Regions from separate parts of the Homo sapiens genome. Here region 2 is linked to region 1. Evidence: fine-mapped expression QTL. Tissue or cell type: hippocampus. Region 1 holds a variant in brackets; the other region holds the start of a gene. All regions are shown on one strand. Distances are between the middles of the regions.

Region 1 (2,684 bases):
TTTTTGAGACAGAGTTTTGTTCTTGTTGCCCAAGCTGGAGTGCAATGGCACAGTCTCGGCTCACTGCAACCTCCGCCTCCTGGGTTCAAGTGATTCTCCTGCCTCAGCCTCCCACGTAGCTGGGATTACAGGTGCCCACCACCATGCCTGGCTAATTTTTTTTTTTTTTTTTTTTTTTTGTATTTTTAGTATAGATGGGGTTTCACCATGCTGGCCAGGCTGGGAGTTCGGGATTGTATTCTTGATTGGGCTCTCAGCTTGAACGTTATTTGTGTAGAAATGCTACTGATTTTTGTACCTTGATTTTGTATCCTGAAACTTTACTGAAATCATTTATCAGTTCCAGGAGCCTTTTGATGGAGTCTTTAGGATTTTAGAATCATCATCAGTGAAGACAGATAGTTTGACTTCTTTTCCCATTTGGATGCCTTTTATTTCTTTCTCTTCCCTGATTGCTCCAGCCAGGACTTCTGCTACATCAAATTTTTTAAAAAATTGAATAAACATATTTTAATGTAATTGATTTTCCCTATAATCTGATATATCTTAATCACTCATTTTACTTTGAGAAGGTGTTCCAGGCTTTACCAGGTGCCCAAAGGCATCTAAGGTTCAGAAAAGATGAAGAACGCTGACAGGAGTTCAGGGGTGGGAGTGGGGAGTGGGAGGATGTGGCCTCAGGTATTTTTCTTGTTGCCTCTCCTTAGAAGTCTGTGAACACAGCTGATGGTTTTGGGATAGTTTTGGCTTTTCTTTTATATATGTTTTTTATTTTTGTTATTATTTGTTTTTCACGCTTGGCTTTCCATGATTTTTTTAAAAATTATTTTTATTTTTTTGAGACAGGGTCTCACTCTATCACCCAGGCTGGAGTGCAATGGTGCTATCTCAGCTCACTGCAGCCTTGACCTTCCGGGCTCAATCCATCCTCCTACCTCAGCCTTCCATACTACAATGCCCAGCTAATTTGTGTATTTTTAGTGGAGA[C/T]GGGGTTTCACCATGTTGTCTAAACTGGTCTTGAACTCCTGAGCTGAAGTGATCTGCCCACCTTGACCTCCCAAAGTGCTGGGATTACAGGCAGGTTTTGGCTTCTCTCAACCACACTACTGAGTAGTCTTTATTTTTAAATCAAACTTTGCTTTTTACAAAGAAAAGCATTTTTCTGGTCGGAGATTTGTCCTCCTTACTCATGTGTTCTGTGAAGCGTCTATTTCTTTGAATCTTTTCGTACAGTCAAAATGAGAATGTCCAGAGGTGAGTCAGAGCTTCTCAAAGGACATTCGTGTGTTTCCACCTTTTCCAATAACCAACCCATTCTTCCTGTTTACTAACAACCACATAATACACACACGCATGCCCTAAGGATTCCCTTCCTCTTCTCTTCACTGCATAGTGAACATTTTCTTGCCAATCCTCCTCCTAATCAGTGTTCAAAGAGGGGAGAAGGCAAAACCAGGACATCACCAGAACCCTCCGCGAACACCTTCCTCATCAAGAGAAAACTACTATGTGCCATTTGGAAAGGGGCCAGGCCTGGCATCTCCATCTTTTCCTCCCAGACTGTATTGCTTAGAACATTTCTTCCCAAGCCCAGTCACTCATGGCCCCCTCCTTGCCTCTGGCCATGTCTAAGGACCTTTCCTATTGCAGAGAGGAGCTTCTGTGTTGTGCTTCTGTTAGGAGCTCTGGCTCGGAGCTCAGACTGCATAGGTTTCTAGCCCAAATCTACTCCTGAGCCCCTGTGTGTTTTTGGGCAAGTTGTTTCACCTCTCCAGGCCTCAGTGTCACTTTCCTTATCTACAAAGCAGGGATTGGAATAGTACCTTCCTTAGGGGGTTGCTAGGAGGACTGAGTGAGTCAATACACGAACCGTGTTGAGAGCAGTGTGTGACACGTAATAAGCATTCAGCAAGCATTGGCTATCAAAATTAGTGATTGTTGACTTAGCATTTTCTTTAAAACTAGCCCTTAAAAATCAAGATGAGCTTAATTTAGAAAGGAAACTAGTGGATAGTAAGAGGGAAAAAAAGACAAGTTTAAGAGTAGGCAAGACCATGGTTTCAGGCAGAAAGGGTTGAACTCCAAGGGCAGGAAGTGGGAATTCCTGAGCCAGGTAGAAAAGCTGGGCCTGGGCATAGTGCCTGTGGTGAAAGAGGTGGTGGGAACAAGGAGGGCTGGCAGGACCCGGGGCATCTGACTGTACATGGACATCCGGGGTTTGAGGCTGGGGAAAGACAAGCTGGATGAAAGATTAGAGAGGGTAGGGGCAGAAGTTGAGAAACACAGGTTCTGTAACTGGGGTGAGGTGCCAAGATAAAGGGTCATGGGAAGAGAGAGACGTAAGTTGGAGCCTAAGGACAAGCTCTAAGAAAGGACCTGAAGGAATGGGAGGCTGGAAGAGGCAGGGGCTGAGATTGGGGGCAGGTGGTACCTTAAGGCATAGTATTAATATATGATTAGGGTATGAGACCCAATGACATATAGTGAAGACTCTTCCAAGGGATGTGCAAGCATGGACATCCTTTTAACAAATTTTGTATTGAAATACAACATGCATAGGTAAAAGTACACAAATCATAAGTATACAAAAAGAAAATTTTTCCCCAGGTCGAACACTCAGGGCCTGGACCAAGAAACATTACCAGCTTCACTACATGGTGCTCCCATCGTCGATACGTGTGCCA
Region 2 (2,684 bases), 270 kb before region 1:
TACCACGCAACAGAACCTCAACCCCCGTTCTAGGATACTTGGGCAAATATATATTTATTAGTCATATATTTATATATTTTTAACGATATTGTCATGTCTTTCCTCTTGAAATTATCTTGAAATTCTATCTTCCTGAGGGCTGGTTAAAGAAAAGGCGCCACTGAACCACCCAAGATTGAACAATTCACACACACACACACACACACACACACACACACACACACGAAGGTGTAGCTTGAAGCGCCTGCTTTCAGTCTTTCCCAGTCTTTCCAAGCATCTCTCAGGCTGAAAGCAAGCGGAAGTGATTGAGAAATCCCTCCAGGGACTGGTGCCTCCCACAGGGATCTACAACTTTACACTCCATCCCCCCTTCCCCTCCCATCTCTAAACCCCCTGGTAGTGAGGGGCGCCAGAGTCCCCGCCCCTTCTTGCTGCCAAAATTTGTTCTTAACCTTTTTTGGGGCAGGGGACCTACAGAATGCTATGGACCCTCCATGAATGGTGACAGAGGTTGGTGGAAAGCACAGCTTAAATATTTTGCGAAATTTTCAAGAGACCACGTATTAGAAACACACTCCGACCTGCAGGATTAAGAACCCCATTTCTAAAACTCTTGACTTGGGGTGATTAAATCGAGAGCGGAGCTCAGGTGCCAAATCTCTTCCCGAATGAAAAAGTGTAGGAAGGGAAGGCGCTCCGGCGCTGGGCCACTTTCACTTGTAAGAAACCAAAAGATGGGGACTGGTGGCAAGAGATGGGGACGGAAGAGAAAGGAAAGGAAAAGGAGAAATGTGAGAAACAGACAGGGACACGGTGGGGCGGGGAGAAGACAGACATCACAGGGGAAAATGGGGAGAAGGGACAGAGTCCGAGAGGCACAGCAGCAGAGAGACAAGGGGGAGGAGGAAAAAGAGACTCGGAAGGGAGGAGAGAGAGGAGAGGAGAGGAAAAAGACGAGAGGGGAAGTGGCTGCACGCGCGCCAGGAAAGGGAGAGAACTTTCCCTGCTTTCCCTCCCCGGGGCAGGGAATCTCAGAAAACCCCACTTCAGCGAGGTGGCGGGGACCAGGAACAGCTGCCCCGGCGCTGGTGACGCCTCTGGCCTCCGCCTCTTGCAGCCGGCAGGGCCTCCGGCTGCGAGTCCCGCACGGGCCGGCCGAGGAGGGGACATGGTCTGGAAGGAGGCGGTCCCCGTTCGTCTCGCTTTCTCCTCCCCTCTCCTCCTCTTAGAGGCGTGCACCGGGGGCATTTGAGAGGCTGTGGACCCGCGGCCCCCCCGCCTCCGCCCCCCCAGCCCCCCATTCAAGAAGCCGCTCAGCTATCCCGGCCAGCACAGGGCGCCCGGCGCGCCTCGGAGCGCAAGTTCCTCGCCTTCTCCTGCCCGCTCGCTGGGCATTATGCGGCCAAGCAGCCGAGCCCCAGTCCTCCTCCTCCTCCTGCTCCTCCGGCTCCTCCTGCGGCCCGAGCGGCTCAGCTCTCGGCAGGCGGCGGCGTTGCTCAGCCGAGCGCAGACGGGACCCTCGCAGCGAGACCTCAGCGACTCCTAAAGTCAAAAGTTGGCGGCGGGCGCCGGGCTCCGCGCGCTCTCCACGGCCGCTGCCTCGCGTCGCCGCCGCAGCCAAGGAGGGCAGGAGGGAGGGGGGTGGGGGCAGCGGAGGGAGGGGTGGGAAGCACCATGCAGTTTGTATCCTGGGCCACACTGCTAACGCTCCTGGTGCGGGACCTGGCCGAGATGGGGAGCCCAGACGCCGCGGCGGCCGTGCGCAAGGACAGGCTGCACCCGAGGCAAGGTAACCAGGCTCCGGCCCCCGGGACCCCGCCGGCCCCGACGCCGCCTCCCGGTCCTCGCTCCTGGGCAGGGGCACCCCGCAGCGGAGGCTTCTCTCCTTTTCCTAGAAAGAATTATCTCCCGCTTTGCAGCCTCTCCCTTCTTTGGGTCATCCCCAACCAATTGCTAGGGAGGGACACTATGGAAACGAATTTAGGCAACCCCCCCCTACCTTGCTGTTGCCAGATATATCCCCATCCCCACTCCCACGCCGCAAACTAAAGTAACTTAGTAATTGGGGGCACCAGATAGCGTCATGTTTTATTTTATTCAGGTTATTTATCAATATCTGAAATCATATATATTTTGACTTGTTAATTGTCTGGCTCGGAATAGTGTATCCTCAGCACCTAGCACAGGTCCTGTTACTGGCACATAGTAGGTGCTCAGCAAATATTTGTCCACTGATTAAGGGTGAAGGGATTGACTCGAATGGGCTGGAAAATAAGGTCAGAACAAAGTCCCCACCTTCGTTTTAAATTAAAGCTTAAGGAAAAATGAATTATTGGTTCATATACCTCTGCTTCTCTCCGCAGTGAAATTATTAGAGACCCTGAGCGAATACGAAATCGTGTCTCCCATCCGAGTGAACGCTCTCGGAGAACCCTTTCCCACGAACGTCCACTTCAAAAGAACGCGACGGAGCATTAACTCTGCCACTGACCCCTGGCCTGCCTTCGCCTCCTCCTCTTCCTCCTCTACCTCCTCCCAGGCGCATTACCGCCTCTCTGCCTTCGGCCAGCAGTTTCTATTTAATCTCACCGCCAATGCCGGATTTATCGCTCCACTGTTCACTGTCACCCTCCTCGGGACGCCCGGGGTGAATCAGACCAAGTTTTATTCCGAAGAGGAAGCGG

What was found. PIP is the estimated chance that this variant, and not a neighbour inherited with it, causes the effect.
Region 2: it holds the start of ADAMTS9, and the variant in region 1 is fine-mapped to the expression of ADAMTS9 in hippocampus (GTEx, PIP 0.99).

Annotation. Positions count from the first base shown.
Region 1 is chr3:64,412,842-64,415,525 of GRCh38, reverse strand. No RefSeq gene overlaps it. Among named protein-coding and RNA genes, the nearest start is that of PRICKLE2-DT, 31 kb to the left of the region's middle. The variant C/T (reference allele first, on the strand shown) is at 988.
Region 2 is chr3:64,686,648-64,689,331 of GRCh38, reverse strand. ADAMTS9 (ADAM metallopeptidase with thrombospondin type 1 motif 9) reads left to right here and starts at 1,332. Exons shown (of 40, transcript NM_182920.2): 1 at 1,332-1,789; 2 at 2,364-2,684. The coding sequence starts at 1,675. The region is part of intron 1 of ADAMTS9-AS2 (ADAMTS9 antisense RNA 2); the gene reads right to left.